2 separate regions of the Homo sapiens genome follow, and region 1 is linked to region 2. Evidence: fine-mapped expression QTL. Tissue or cell type: monocytes after triphosphate RNA. Region 2 holds a variant in brackets; the other region holds the start of a gene. All regions are shown on one strand. Distances are between the middles of the regions.

Region 1 (8,104 bases), 960 kb after region 2:
GTCTCCACCTCTCCCTCTTATTTCTCAACTCAAGATTTCATCTTTAGCAGGCAGAAAGCCCCTCCTCCTGTCTAGACTGCGTCCCTTCAGTAAGTGCATCGGGCCTGCAGCTCTCAAGTCCTCGGGGGAGATGGAAAAACTGCAACCTCATGCCCTCTTTGTAGTAGTCAGTGGGATGGGGTTCATTCTGTTTTCTTCTCTGTCTCAAGTCCCATTAGCCTTCTCCACGATCAATAATCCCGTTGCCTGGGGTCCCCGCCTGCCCTCAGGGAATCCAGAAGCGCGGTAGTGACAGGTTCAGTACTCCGGCTGCACCATCACATAAAGAGAACCCATTTCCCAGACCCCAAATCCAGGCCCATTCTGGTGTCAGATGTCCAGTTGGCAGAGACACCAGAACCAGGCAGGTCTGGAGAACAATCTGACACCAGCTCCTCCCTAGAGGGCCAAGGCTCTGGCTGACAGGCAGCACACATGACCCCCACCTCCATCACCAGAAAAGCCCTCCCAGCAGCTGCCTATCTCAGGTCTCTTGGGCTTCAGAGCAGAGGACAGCCAGTTCCCCATCAAGAGCAGCCTGGCAGCACTGCCTCGTCAACTCCAGCAGGACATTAGCCCAGGCCTAAATCGGACTCTCGTTTCTCGCCAATCCCCACAGGGCAGCACCCCTTTATCTTGGCATAGCCCCAGCCCCCAGCAAAGCAGGCAACTCCCACTTCCTACACATGAACAAGCCCAGAACAGCCATGGTTCTACCTAACCCAAGCTAGGAGGCAGCACAGCTTTGACCCCTGCCTCCTCTTTCCCTCTCAACCTCCCCCCAACACTCACCACAGCCCTGGCCTTGGGGAGAAGCCGCTTCCACCGGAAACTAAAAATCAAGCCACTGGGGAGATTTAAGTGGGCTGGTGGCCAGGACAGGTATCACCCCCACCTACAAAACCTGCCCTACATTCACCACTCACACATGCCTTCATGGGCCCTTCTGAATTCTCTTCTCCCCAGTCAGGCAGAGGCTCTCAAAAGGGGGTGCAGAAAAATCCTTTCCGCTCACACCTGTAATCCCAGCACTTTGGGAGGCTGAGGCGGGCGGATCTCCTGAAGGTCAGGAGTTCGAGACCATCCTGACCAACATGGTGAAACCCCATCTCTACTAAAAATACAAAAATTAGCCTAGTGTGGTGGTGCATGCCTGTAATCCCAGCTACTCGGGAGGCTGAGACAGGAGAATCGCTTGAACCCAGGAGGTAGACGTTACAGTGAGCCGAGATCGCGCCACTGCACTCCAGCCTGGGTGGCAGAGCGTGACTCCATCTCAAAAAAAAAAAAAAAATCCTTTCCAGAGCTGCATGGGGCAATACAGCAGGATGGGTTCTGGGCTTGGAATCAGAGGACCCAAACGTCAGTCTTGGTGCTGCTTGGGTCTCGCTGTACAACATTGGGGAAATTACTTAAGTTCCTTGAGTTTCAATTTCCTCCTCTGTAGAATGCGAATAATGATACGCGTTTTTTTTGTTTTTTTTTTTTTTTTGAGTCAGGGACTCACTCTGTTGCCCAGGCTGGAATACAGTGACACAGCTCACTGCAGCCTTGACTTCCCTGGGCTCAGGTAATCCTCCCACCTCAACATTCCCAGTAGCTGGGACCACAGGCATGCACCACCACGCCCGGCTAATTTTTCTATTTTTTTGTAGAGACAGGGTTTCTCCATGTTGCCCAGGCTGGTCTGGAACTCCTGGGCTCAATCAAGCAGTCCACCCTTCTGGGCCTCCTAACGTGCTGGGATTGCAGGTCTGAGCCATCCAGCCTGGCCAGCCATAAGGATTAAGTAAAAATAGTTAATGAAAGTGCTTGGTTTGGGCCAGGTGAGGTGGCTCACGCCTGTAATCCCAGCACTTTGGGAGGCCGGGGCGGGCGAATCACGAGGTCAGGAGATCAAGACCAGCCTGCGCAACATGGTGAAACCCTGTCTCTACTAAAAATACAAAAATCAGCCGGGGGTGGTGGCACACGCCTGTAATCCTGGCTACTCAGGAGGCTGAGGCAGGAGAATCACTTGAACCCAGGAGGCGGAGGTTGCAGTGAGCCTGGGTGACAGAGCGAGACTCCATCTCAAAAAAAAAAAAAAAAAAAAAAAAGAAAGTGCTTGGTTTCTGTAAAGTCTTACCTTGATCTTGAGTTACCGTTTGTCAAGTACTTACTGGGTAGATAGGTATTAGTATTCCCATTTTGCCAAAGAGGTCACTGAGGCTCAGGTAATGAGAGACAGAGCTGGGTCTCAAACCCAGCTCAGTTCAAGCCCAAAGCCCTGTGCTCAGAACTGCCCCACTGTCCCATCTCTCCAAATAAACAGTCCTTCTGTAGACTAGTCAATTGACCCATCTCACTCTAAGGTGGCTCCAGGATGGGAAAAAGGTTGGCAGCCCTAGCCCGACCTTTTTCGTTCCTATGCACTGCATTCTCAAAGCCTCGGCCCTGGCAGCCCAAACAGAGGCTCCAGAGGGAATGGGGTGGAGCCAGGGTGCAAGGGAGGGGTGGAGTGGGGGTGGGAGGGCTCAAGTCACCCAAGCTGGGGCTTGATCTAGCAAGAAATGACTAACTGGGTCCTACCTTCTCCTCCTCCCCCGCATCCCCCAGTCCAGTCAGTGGCCAGTTTTCACCAAGCACCTCCTAGCAGTACTTCCTCAGTATTATCTTTTCATCACAGCCACAAACCAGATTAGCTAAACTAATCATGTAGCCAACATAATTACAATGCCCTCCCCTCCTCCACCTTGGCACAGAGAAGAGGGAAAGCAGGTTATTTTTGCCCAAACTCCCTGCTCCTGTTGCTCCCCAGAGGTGCAGAATCCCATCCCCCGGCAGAAAAGGATCTGAGTTCCCACACTGACTTCCCCCTAGCACAGGGCTGAGCGTGATCCCCACCCAGGATAAAGGGGCTGAGTCTGGGCCCCCAGCCTCACTCCCCCATCTACAACAAAGAAAGAGGTGGTAGACTCTTCCCCTCCAAGCACTCTCGATCCCCGCCCCCCACAATCTTTCTCCCACCCCCAGGACTGAGAGAGAACCCAACTGTTGTATTCTCTCTCTGTTCCCCAACGAGGCTGGGCTCCAAATCCTGCAAAAAGACCACATTTCAGATTTTTTTTTTAAACCGGGGTACAAACCCTGATCAAGATCCCCAATTCTGGGTGGGGGGGGGCGGTCTCAGGAAATTGGGAGCAGGGAAGGCAGGGGGCCCGATGCAGCTCTGCCTGAGAGAGTCTAGCATTGAAGAAACCTTCCCCCAAAAAGCCTTCCTGCGGTCTCACTTTCCCTGTCAAATTCTTTCAGGAAAGCGGGTGGGAAAGGTCTGTGCAGGCCTCCAGAAAGCATGCACCTTCACAATTCAGAAATCAAATGGAAGGCAAGTCCCACAGCCTCATGCGCTTCTGCCTCAATAACCAGCCAGCTAAGTAATGTGGGGGATGGGGTAGAGGCAAAAAAAAAAAGACAAGAACAACCACTCCCCCCACCTTCCTCAGTTTGGCCCAGCCCTGCCCCACCCCCATTCCTGGGGAGGGGGCAGAGCTTGAGAGACAACCACTTACGCAGGCCTTGTCTGAGGGGGTGTGGTGGTCCCAGGAGGCAGGAAGAGAAGGAAGAAGCTGCTTCCCCTCTCAGCACTTTCCACCCCCCACCCCGGCCCCTACCTCAGGCCCCTGGGGCCCAGCGAACAGGATGAATGTGGGGGCAGGGAAGACAGGGTCGGAGCCCAGGCACCGGCCCAGGTTCAGCCAGGGGCCGGCTGGGGGAAGGGGTTTTGCACCAGGAAGGACCCCCTAAGCCTAAAGGAAGTTTTGGGCAAGGAGACGGGAAAACCCCCAGATAAAGCTGCTGTGAATACTTCCTCCTGCAAAGTTTGTTTTGGGTGATTTTTTCCAACAATAAGAGGTTAGAGAAGACGGGTCCTGTTCCCCTACCAACACTCTGGCAGCCACAGCTACTGGAAACTGGGCCAGGTGACCCTGAATTCTTCATCCGTGCACAGACCCCACCCCCCAGACCCCAGGGCGAGCCACGGGTGCCAGACACCAGCTGGACACTGAGCCGAGCCCTGCACCCCCCAGTCACTCCATCCCACCTCCGCTGAAGAAGCCAGAGCCGGGCTCCCACCGGCGTGGAGGGAGGCGCCGCAGGTAGTATCGACGAGGCTCTGGGAGCTGGAGGGCAGGGCCTCTGGACTCCGTGCGCTCACCTGCTCGGCAGGTGGGGCCAGAGTCGCTGGGAAAATGTGCGCTCGGCCCCCACAGTTGGGCAAGCTGGGCGCAAACAATAGGGCCCCACCCAGGCCTGGGGGAGTAGGGAGGGAGGGAAAGCGAGGATGACGCGTGGGGTGGGGTGAGGGTGGCCCCAAAGAGACCAGCGGCAGCAAGTTCCCCAAACGGTAAATTCCTGACTGCAGCGTGAGCCCTGGGACGCAGTCGAAGCAGAGCAAAGTCTCCCCCGCCAGCCCAGGGCGAGAGTCAGGGACGCGGCGTCGGGCGAGCTGCGCGGGCCCCGGGGGAGGCGCGACCCCGGAGGCACCTGTCCGGATCCCTCCCCGCCTTGCTCAGATCTCTGGTTCGCGGAGCTCCGAGGCGCGCTCGGCCCGAACCGCGCGACCCCCAAGTCGCCGCGCCCAGGACCCCAGCGCGCCCCCTGCCGCCGGTGCAGGGTGGCGCTCGATGGCACCGGCCCTCACCTGCCCAGGGACGGCTGGGACCGGCCCCGCGGCCGCTCGCCACCCCTCTGTCCCCAACGATACCTGCGCCCCCGATAGCCCGCACCTGAGTATGGGGCCTGACCGGGCCGGGTCGGGGTCGGGCCGGGGTGGGAGCCGGCGCGGACAGCGAACTGAGCTCGGCGTGGTCGGGCGGCGGCTGCTCCGGACTCTGGCCAAGGCAGCAACTCAGTAACCGAACAAAAGGCGAAGAGACCTGACAGCCAAGCCACGCCCCTCGCCACCTCGAAGCTCCGCCCCTGGGGGAGACGCCCACCCTCTGGTGCGAGCTCACTGGCTATCTCGCCTGACTGTCCCGTGGAGGGGCGGAGCCTCGCCTCCAGTCCTCTTCCACGGCCGCCTCTGTTTATCCGCTTGCCATTGGCCCCGGGGACTGCCAGTCGGCTCTAGGGATGGACTCTAACTTGAGGTCTCATCCTAACATTGCATCTATTGGCAGATAGAAAGTTACTTCCTCCTGATTGGACAAGGCTCTGTCAGTAAGACTAAGGAAAAAACCAATGGAAGGGATGGGGTGTGTCTTGCCCCACCCTTGCTCTGAGCAGGTGAGACTCATTACTCTCCCCTTCCCCCTACCTGTCCAACAGGTAAGTCATAGGGATACCAAGGGAAGGGACAGACGCCTTCACCGGCCAGCCAACTCAGCGTCAGGCATGATGCTTCTTTGGGCTTATTCATCCTTGCCCCAAAGTAGTAATCACATATTTGTATAGCATTTCATAGGCTTTGTGCTGGGGTGGGATTTTTTTCCCGAAAGATGGAGTACTCCTGGGATTTAGAATTAGAAGGCCAGGTTTGGTCTTCTCCCACTTGGTATGATTTTAGGCAAGTTACTTCACCCTGTTTCTCCTCTTCTGTAAACTGGATACATTAGCCATATCTACCTCACTGGAGTATGTGGGGATTAAATGAGGTCAGGTTTGTGAAAGCACTCAGAAACTGCTAAAGGTTAGAAATTTAAATTAACGGTATGTTTTTTTTTAATTATTGTGACAGCTCTGAAAAATAGTTAGGATGAGAAAACGACCCTCATTGTAAAGATGAAGAAACCGAAGTTCAGAGAAGTCACAAAACTACAAAGTGGCACACCCCAAGCTAGAACCTCCTTCCTCTCATTTGAAGGACCATCAAACCAGCTGTTCCCCTCATGGAAGAGGAGCATAGACATAAAATGTCAAGGCAATGGGGAAGGGGCAGAGAAAAGGCACAAACACTTGGAGGAGAGACAGAACAATTAATTGGCACAAAAATACAGTATTGGTGTCAGGAGGCTTTGGTGGGCTTGGAAACATCAAGCAGCAGATCTGAAGGAAATCCAGCCCTGGCATGAAAGAAACGGGGCAGGCCAGGCGCAGTGGCTCACTCCTGTAATCTCAGCATTTTGGGAGGCAAAGGCGGGTGGATCACCTGAGGTCGGGAGTTCAACACCAGCCTGGCCAATATGGTGAAGCCCCATCTCTACAAAAAATACAAAAAGTTAGCCGAGCGTGGTGGCGGGCAACTATAATCCCAGCTGCCTGGGAGACTGAGGCAGGAGAATTGCTTGAACCTGGGAGGCGGAGGTTGCAGTGAGCCGAGACCATGTCACTGCACTCCAGCCTGGGCATGACAGAGCGAGACTCCATCTCAAACAAAAAAAAAAAAAAGAAAAGAAAAAAATAAACCGGGCAGCACACCCCTCTGCGATAGGAGAGCCTGGGGTAGAGATCAGAGAGAACTTCTCGGCCAGGCGTGGTGGCTCATGCCTGTAATCCCAGCAATTTGGGAGGCCAAGGTGGGCAGATCACTTGAGGTCAGGAGTTCGAGACCAGCCTGGCCGACATGGTGAAACCCCATCTCTACTGAAAATACAGAAATTAGCCAGGCATGGCAGCGGGCACCTGTAATGCCAGCTACTCGGGAGGCTGAGGCAGGAGAATGGCGTGAACCCGGGAGGCAGAGGTTGCAGTGAGCTGAGATCATGCCATTGCACTCCAGCCTGGGTGACAGAGTGAGACTCTGTCTCAAAAAAATAAAAAGGACTTCTCACAGGCAGCTTAAGAAGACAAGGGCACTTCCTTTCTGTGGTTGATGACATGAATGCTGCTCGTGGCTGTATGGTGTGCCAAGGGCCCTACAAACATTCCTTCATTCAACACTTGAGTATTCATTGTCAACTGTATGTTAGGCACTGGTGAACACAGAAAATAAAACCTGGTGACACAGGAAATAAAAATGATCCCAACCTTCAAAGAGCTCATAGAAGGATAAGCAGAAGCAGCGTGTGTGGGTGGGTTTTGGAGGAGTGGTGGTTTAGAAAAGGGTCCCCCATCAACAAAGCTCTACAGCCCCAAAGCTAGCACACAGGATGGGCTGGATGAAGGTACCTTAGCAGCAACCTTGACCACTTTCCCCACCAGAGAAAAGAATGGTAGCTGAACATTCTCCCTTCTGAAGTTGCGCCATCCAAAAGCAGGGCCAGGGAGATACGGACATCCCTGAACTAGTGGCCATCCCATAACCAGGGCCACCGCCCTTTGCCTGTTTCCTCAACTCTCCATCCTCCAGCTTACCTCCCTATCTTTATCCCTGCCTTACCCCTGCCCCATCCACCTGCTTGTCACCCTGTCACATAGAGCTGTAGCCAGGCCACAGCTGGGGAAGGAATGGGCTCACAATCCTGGACTGCTGCAGCTGCCAGGGTTTCATTTCTTCCCCCTTCTGCCCACCTCCCACCTCCACACATGCACACACACATACGTCCCAGCTCCAAGCCTGGCCTGACTCCTTCCTATTTCTCCTGACCTCAGCAAAGAGGCAGGGTAGGGCTGGTTGACTGCAGAGAGGGGTGGAGGAGCCCATGTGGGTGGAGGAGCAGAAATAAGGTTTCAGAATAAACCGTGTGTGTGTGTGTGTGTGTGTGTGTGTGTGTGTGTCTCCCCAGAATGCCCCCTGCGTGTCTTAGCATGGAACATGTTGCATAACACCAGCCCCAGAGCTAAACACACAGGCTGGGACTGGTGGAAGCACCACCACAGCAGCGGCAAAGACTGGGATTAGAGCTGAGTCTCTCCTCCCAGATCAAGGGATTCTCTTTAAGCACCTACTATGTGCCTGGCAGGCACTGAGATTCATCTGTATCTGAGAATACAGAATAGAATCAGAAATGATGTTTCCTAGACTCAGCTGTCTGCACAGGCAATTTGGTCTCTTGTGAAAGGAGGTATGTAGGGATAGGATGGGGGTTTCTGTGACCACAGTCTCCCCTGTAGCTTGAACTTGAAGAAAAGGCCGCAAGGTCATCTTATCCAGTCCCCTGCCTGCAAACCTTTAAAGGCAAGAATTCTCTGACAAATGTCCAGG
Region 2 (8,104 bases):
TGTGTGTGTGTGGTGTGAGTGCACAATGAAAGAATATTGAAGTAAAGTTCGGGATTGAGGATGAGTTTTGGTTTAAGACGTGAATTTGAGGTAATACCAGGATATTCATGTAAACATGTCTTTAAGCAATTATGGGACTGCTGTTAAGGAGAGAGATTCAGAATAGCAGATTTTGGGGGTAGTTAGGATCCCTAAGGGAAGGAATTTAGAGAGAAATGTACAGAAGGTCTAATTCTGAACTTTTGGAGTCACTTTAGGGGCTGGGAAGAAGAAGTAGAGCTAGAGAATAATCCTGAAAAGAAGGACATCTAGGACCAGGGAAAGGGGGAAAGAGGATCAGTGAAGCCAAGGGAGAAGAGAACGTGGGTGAGGTGATCATCCGAGAGGTCAATGAAAAGATGGATTGAGGAAAGTAATTTGGAACCATTGGCATCCTTCCAGAGGACAATTTTAATTGAGTAGTGGTGGGGCAATTCATGATGCATACCCAATATTGGAATTGATGACTTTGCTTATGGTATTTTATTTTCATGTTGTCCAGTTTATCAATTTCTTCTTTAATTGCTTCTGAACTTTGAGTCGTGGTTAAGACGGATATAGTTGCTATTCGCATGGGGTTAATTTGGCCGGAGCTCTAGAAGCATGTTGTGGATTCAAGTTTGTTATCAGTTTGACTTGTCTCACTGTTGGGATTTGGATCCTTTTTATTTCTTCCTTATTTTGCTTCAAGTAAAATCCGCTTTTGAAGTTTCTAGCTGAAAATTCTATTTGCAAGTTTCTTTTTCTGATTGAGATATAATACATATAATTGAGATATAATGCATAGTTTAGGTAGTTGCAGAAGGACAAATCTGGTAATGCAGGTTATATCTCAAGATGGCAAGGTTGATCTAAATATTTAGAATTTTCTGTTGTTTATCACAAAGTTTAAGAGTCAGGCATTTTCTTTTTACTGTTCTGTGACTGTGCAAATTGCTTAATATACTTTTGTGATTACTACCCACAGAGTCAAAACAAAGTGGAAAATTGTATCATTATTTGATAGATTTGGTACCCTCTTCTCAGATAGCTAATTGTTGGACAACTAAGATATCAATTGATAAAGTTCATGTCTTGTCATTGGTAAACTTCTAAAATTCAGGGATTTAAAATCTACAAACACTCCTATATCAATTTTTCTGAAACTTCTGGGACTGTACTGTGATGGAAGCCACAAAAATATGGAAACTGCTTGAAGGCTTTTGAGTTTTGAGGGTAGTGTAGCAGGGTAAGTGGGTGGGCTCTGGGGTCAGACTGCCGGGGTTACAATCCAGGCTCCCCCATTTACTGTGAGGTTTCATCTCAATGTCCTCCTCTCTAAAGTAGGGATTATAATTTTTCATACTCTGTGGAGTTGTAGCAGGAGTCAAATGAGTTAATAAATATAAAGCGTTTAGAACAATGATTTGCATGCATAGAATAAGCACTTAATGAATATATTTTTGTTGCTATTACTGTTTTGTGATCTCTGTTTCTCATAGGTTAACCCACTGTCCAACCCACAGGATGCCTTCAAAATAGGAATGAATGAAAGGATAGGGTGAGAAGTTAGAAAATGGCTTGTGAGGGAGGAGAAAATGGCTGGAGAGGAAAGTAGGGTGGGGAAAAGGTGTTCAGCTTGATAACTTTTGTGATAAACCATGCCATCTGTTTTTCTTTGAGTGACACTTCCTTTCACTTTAAACTTCATTTCTTTATCTCCTACATCCACCAAGGCACTAATTTTGTCACCTTCTCTTTGTCATAGCTAATGTATTCGTTTCTTTCTGTGTAGCCCCACTGTAACTGCCCTAATCTGAGCTTTCACCACTTTTCTCGAAGATTACTTCACCAGCTTCTGAAGTGGTTTTCTTGACTCAGCACTGTCAATTAAGATCTGTTCACTGCGGCAGGGTTGATGTTCTTGAAACAGTACTGTCATCACTTCATCAACATACTCGGACCTCTTGTGGATGGATTAAGTCTTCTCCATAACCTTGCCCGACTCTGTCTGTCCAACCTCATGCTCCCTGCGGTGAGTCAGGGTGGGGAGTGGAAGGAGTGCTACATTCTCTTCATAAAGTAATTATGTGGCCCTGGGCAAGATACTCAGCTTTCCGTGTCTCAGTTTACTACCCTATAAAATATGGATAGTAATGTTAAATATTAAAATATGGATAATAATCCATGATTCAGTGAAAAAATGTGTGTTAGCATCTCCTTTAAGAATCCTTTAATTACTTAATCCTTTAAGCAGGCCTTTCTACTCTTGGCTAAGATACTATGCTTTGTTCCATTTTAAGGCTTGTGTTTGTTGCTCTTGGCTTAGAATGCCCATCTTCTACTTTGCTGTTTATTCAAGTTATTCTACCTCAACTCCAGACTCTGACTTAAATGCCATCTCCTTCATGAGACTTCCCACCGTTAGTCTGTAGTTCACGGCTGTCTCTTTCTTCTCATTTCCTATGTTGAACAACTTGGTGTTTTATAATTTGTTATAATATTCTGGCCTCTTTATTAGTGTTTCCAATGCAATACGACATTTAAGTTCCTTTAGAGAAGGGAGGGTGCCTCTGTTCTTGCTGCACCCAGTACTCATTGTTCTCTGAATGTTTTCGTATTGCCTCAGTGCCTTTCCCCACTTTCTTTGCCTTTATTTTTTTCTCCAAACTCTTGGCCTGTATGTTTTGGCAATAGTGCAAGTTAAAAATTTAAATGAAGGCTGGTTGAAGACAACTAATTTAATTTTGCTTTAAAGGAAATTATGATACTTTTTGATGTAAGAATATGTAAGAATGATAAGAAAACCAAGATTCTGCATAGGAATTTTAAAATACCTTAAAGTATATAAAGATATATTCCTTAGAATGGAAATACACTATATATATTAAGAAAACATTTTGGCCCTCACTTTTTCCTCTTCATTAAAGGTCACTTTTTTTTTGTCTTGGATCTGTTGAGATTATCTTGATACTAGTAACCTGCTAAAATATATCTGTAGTTTTATTCTAAAATTTGAATTTTTTTCATACATCACATCAAATTAAAAAGCTTCTGCACAGCAAAGGAAACAATCAACAAAGTAAAGAGACAGCCCACGGAATGAGAGAA[A/G]ATATTTGCAAACTATCCATCTGACAGAGGGTTAATAACCAGAATATATAAGGAGCTCAAACAACTCAATAGGAAAGAAAATCTAATAATCTGATAAAAAAAATGGGCAAAAGATCTGAATAGACATACAAATCTCAAAAGACATACAGGCTAGGCATGGTGGCTCACACCTCTAATCCCAGCACTTAGGGAGACTGGGATGGGAGGACTACTTGAGCCTAGGAATTCAAGACCAGCCTGGGTAACGTAGGGAGACCCCATCTCTACAAAAAATAAAAATAAATTAGCTGGGTGTGATGGCATGTGTCTGTAGTCCCAGCTACTTGGGAGGCTGAGGTGAGCCATGTTCCTGCCACTGCACTCCAGCCTGGGCAACAGAGTGACCTCAAAAAAAAAAAATAAGAAAACATATAATGGCAAACAGGTATGTAAAAAGGGGCTCAACATCATTGATCATCAGAGAAATGACTCAAAACTGTGCAATGAGAATGTGATTCTCACTGCAGTTGAATGAATAATGTAAATTATTACAGTCACAGTAATTTGTTGTACAACTCACCCCGCTTAAAATGGCTTTTATCCAAAAGAGAGGCAATAATGAATGCTAGTGAGGATGTGGAGAAAAGGGAACCCCCTCGTTCACTGTCCTTGGGAATGTAAATTAGTACAGCCACTATGGAGAACAGTATGGAGGTTCCTCAAAAAGCTAATAATAGAACTACTGTATGATCCAGCAGTCCCACTGCTAGATATATACCCAAAATCATGGAAATCAGTATATCAGTGAGATATCTGCACCCTCATTTTTTTTTTGCAATTGTGTTCACAATAGCCAAGATGTGGAAACAACCTAAGTGTACATCAACAGACAGGTTGATAAAGAAAACGTGGTACATATGCTCAATGGAGTACTATTCAGCCATAAAAAAGAATGAGATCCTGTTATTGCAACAACTTGACTGGACCTGGAGGACATTATGTTAAGTGAGATAAACCAGGCATAGAAAGATAAACTTCTCATGTTCTCATTTGTGGGAGCTAAAAATGAGAACAATTGAACTCATAGAGATAGAGAGTAGAAAAATGGTTACCAGAGGCTGGGAAGGGTAGTGTGGGGTGAGGGGGCTGGGAAGTGGGGATGGTTAATGGGTACAAAAATATAATTAGATAGAACAAATATAATCTAGTATTTGATAGCACAACAGGGTGATTATAGTCACAATAATTTATTGTACATTTTAAATTAAAAAAATATTATTGGAATATTTGTAACACAAAGAAATGATAAATGCTTGAGGTAATGGGTACCACGTTTACCTGGGTGTGATTATTATGCATTGTTGCCTGTATTGAAATATCTCTTGTTCCTTCTGAATAATACAGTTACCATGGACCCATAAAAAGTTAAAAATTTTGAATGTTTTTTATATTAGGAGAATTGACAATTCTAGTTGGGTTTCTGGCTAGGTAGCCTATGAGTATGTTGTAATTTAAGGATTAAATATAATATAACTTAGCTTTTAAATTTCATTAGTATGTCATGGGATTTCTTTTCAGGTAAATTAATTTCATTTTGTAAAAGACAATTGCTCACTATGAGTTAGCGCATTAGTAGGATAATTAATTAACATATAACATAAAATAGAAATGTAATATCCCTTTTAGTTTTCATAAAAAATAGTGAAGCCGAAAGTACCAAACAATTCTCTACAGACCCATTTTAAAATATTGAAACTGAACATTGTCCAAAATTCAGTGGCTGTTTTCTCCCCCTCATAAATCTAAGAAAATTCCTTTAGGTCCAGCTGTGGTTGCTTGTCCAATTGGTCATTTCAAGGATGGCTGGATATGAGAGAAAATAACATTATAATTGGGTATAACTTCATAATTTTTACTTAGAGAGTCTGGACAGATCTAAATAGAGTAGAGAAAGTTTTGGATTAGAAATGATACATACAGAGGTTAAGGTTTACAGTGAAAGCATTTAATCCCCCACTCTAGTGATTTTAAGTCAGTATATGTAACATGCTTAAATTTAAAGGAAAAAGTCTTAAGGAATCAAATTAATTTCCTAATTTTAAAGGTTTTTAAAAAATACTTGACCTTATGGACTCAGACAACTAGTCAATTTCATAATAAATGGACCCTCTGTCTTTGAATCACTTTTTTTTTTTGGTAAGGGGGTTGTAAGAATGGTAGAGGAATAGATTTAAATAATTATTTAAATGTAACACACAATAGTAGCAGAGAAAATAATTATTTAAATGTAACACACAATAGTAACAGAGAAAATGTACCACAACCATTCTGTGGCTTCTTTCACAAGGCTGACGACTGATAATCTCCAAAGAACTTTTGATTTCTTGTATTAAACCCATTAAACAAATATGCAAATAACATTTGCAAAGTCAGTCCTAAGATAGAGTTTATAGAGCTTGATGAGACTTTTTTATGTTCCAAGACCTGTTCTAAATTTTACTTGCATTTTTGTCTCATCAAATCCTGTTGGCAACTTTATGAGGGAAATTTTATTTTATTTTATTTATTTTGAGATGGAGTTTTGTTCTTGTTGCCCAGGCTGGAGTGCAGAGATGCAATCTTGGCTCACCACAACCTCAGCCTCCCAGGTTCAAGCGATTCTTCTGCCTCAGCCTCCCGAGTAGCTGGGATCACAGGCATGTGCCACCATGCCTAATAATTTTGTATTTTTAGTAGAGACGAGGTTTCTTCATGTTGGTCAGGCTGGTCTCGAACTCCTGACCTGAGGTGATCCACCTGCCTCAGCCTTCCAAAGTGCTGGGATTACAGACGTGAGCCACCACCCTTGGCCAGAAATTTTATTTTAACTAAAATTAGTTGGCCAGGCGCAGTGGCTCACGCCTGTAGTTCCATCACTTTGGGAGGCCAAGGCAGGAGGATCGCATGAGCCTAGGAGTTTGAGACCAGCCTGGGCAACATGGCAAAACCCCGTCTCTACAAAACACATGCACGCACACACACACACACACACACACACACACACACACACACACACACAGAGCCTGGTGTGATGGCACATGCCTGTGGGCCCAGCTACTCAAGAGGGTGAGGTGAGAGGATCACCTGAGCCCAAAAGGTCAAGGCTGCAGTGAGCTGTGATTGCACCACTGCACTCCAGCCTGGGTGACAGAGTGAGACCCTGTTTCCCACAAACCCCTCAAAAAAGAAAAGAAATTAGTTAAAATTTAGCATGCCCAAAACGATTCAATAAAGGGACTTTGGTGGGATTTGAACACAGACCTATCTTCAGAGCTTTTTAAAAACACAATGATTAACTTTTTTCTTTTTTTAAACACACTGTTGCTGGCTTAAACTGAGTAACTCCTAAAACTCTTTTGAAATGAGCTAAAATTGTATTTTTCAGTTATGTGACTTGGAAAATTAACAAGAACATAAGGGATTTTAGTTTCTTTTTCAGACTAGACAAGCCTTCCTTATCATACTTCTGTGATGAAAAAAATAGACTAATTTGAAAAGAAAAAGAACTAATGAGGCAAGATATCCTGCCCTGGAAGAGATCAGACTTGTAGGCCTTGTCTGTTCCCAGGAGAGACTCTGCACTAACTTCCTGAGGGTCCGTCTGGCATGGGTTAATGAAGGTTCCTAACTCTTTGGCAGACCAGTCATTAAAATAACAAATCACAGCAATTAGCCACCATGCATAATTGAAGCATTAATCCTTTTATAATGCTGGCTTTTTCAGATGGAGCTAACACCCATTATGGAGATTAACCACTTTTCATCAGGTTTTTAACTTAAGTCGTGAGGAATACAACGGTGAACACAAGGTGTGTATGTGAATTAATTTAGTAGTAAACTATGACATGGAGGGGTTCTGTTGCTTTGAAAGTTTCCAACTTATATACATTCAAAAGCTATTAAACTTTTTGGTGTCTCTCCAAATATTTTCCATATTGATAATTTTGGTTGAAATGTAGAGCTAGTTAGAATTTTCTAGTCTAATGCTTAGATATAAATGAGTGCATATTTGCAGAGCTATAAGATGTTGCATTATTTTTTTTTCTTGGCATCTGGAATATAAATGCTAAATTTGGTCTAGTTAGAATTTCCTGCTTCCCTCCCTCCCCTGCTTCCTTCCTTCCATCTCAAAACTCTCCAAGGATGAAGACCCCACAAGCTATATTGGGGTAACATATTGTAACAGTAGTTACTTTCAGTTTCTGTCAAACTAGATTAAAAAGAAGACAAGTATTACATGTTCTCACTCATATGTGGGAGCTAAAAAAATTGATCTCATCGAGATAAAGAGGAGTATAATGGTTACCAGAGAGGCTAGGAGGATAGTAGGGAGGTGAGGGAGAGAAAGTAGGGGATAAAGAGGGTTGGTTGATGGGTACAAACTTACAATTAGAAGGAATAAGATCTAGTGTTCAGTAGCACAATAGAGTGACTATAGTTGACAGAAATTCACTATATATTTTAAATAACTAGAGTGAAATTAGAATGTTCCCAACACAAAGAAATAAGTGTTTGAGATGATGAATATCCCCATTATCCTGATTTGATCATTACACATTGTATGCTTGTATCAAAATATCACATGTACCCCATATATATGTATAACTACTGTGTATCCATAAAATTTTTAAAAAATTTAAAAGAGGAAAGGAATGGAAAATAAAAGTAAAAAGATGATTCATCAAAAATTACATTGTAGAAGAAGAGTGCAGAATGGCATAAACTAGTACCACATAGAACTTAATTTGTAATTGTGAAGAAACCATGTAAGTATATTTACTCCTGGTATTGTGTCTTTCTCTCTTATCCTAATTTACTGTTCCTCTATAGTTTAAAATTAAAGAATTGCCTTTAAATTTTACAGGGCAAACTAATTATACTGTGGAGACACAAAATGTTTTGAGACATCTGTGACCAGACATGTCACGTGTGAATATACCATTGGATTTCAAAGCAA

The links. PIP is the estimated chance that this variant, and not a neighbour inherited with it, causes the effect.
Region 1: it holds the start of JUP, and the variant in region 2 is fine-mapped to the expression of JUP in monocytes after triphosphate RNA (Kim-Hellmuth 2017, PIP 0.95).

What each region holds. Positions count from the first base shown.
Region 1 is chr17:41,781,780-41,789,883 of GRCh38, forward strand. JUP (junction plakoglobin) reads right to left here and starts at 4,932. Exons shown (of 14, transcript NM_002230.4): 1 at 4,809-4,932. RefSeq lists silencers at 4,224-4,436, 4,601-4,900.
Region 2 is chr17:40,826,244-40,834,347 of GRCh38, forward strand. It overlaps KRT10-AS1 (KRT10 antisense RNA 1), which reads left to right. Exons shown (of 3, transcript NR_160888.1): 2 at 6,872-6,956. Among named protein-coding and RNA genes, the nearest start is that of KRT10, 7.7 kb to the left of the region's middle. RefSeq lists an enhancer at 923-2,122 and a silencer at 1,866-2,095. The variant A/G (reference allele first, on the strand shown) is at 3,130.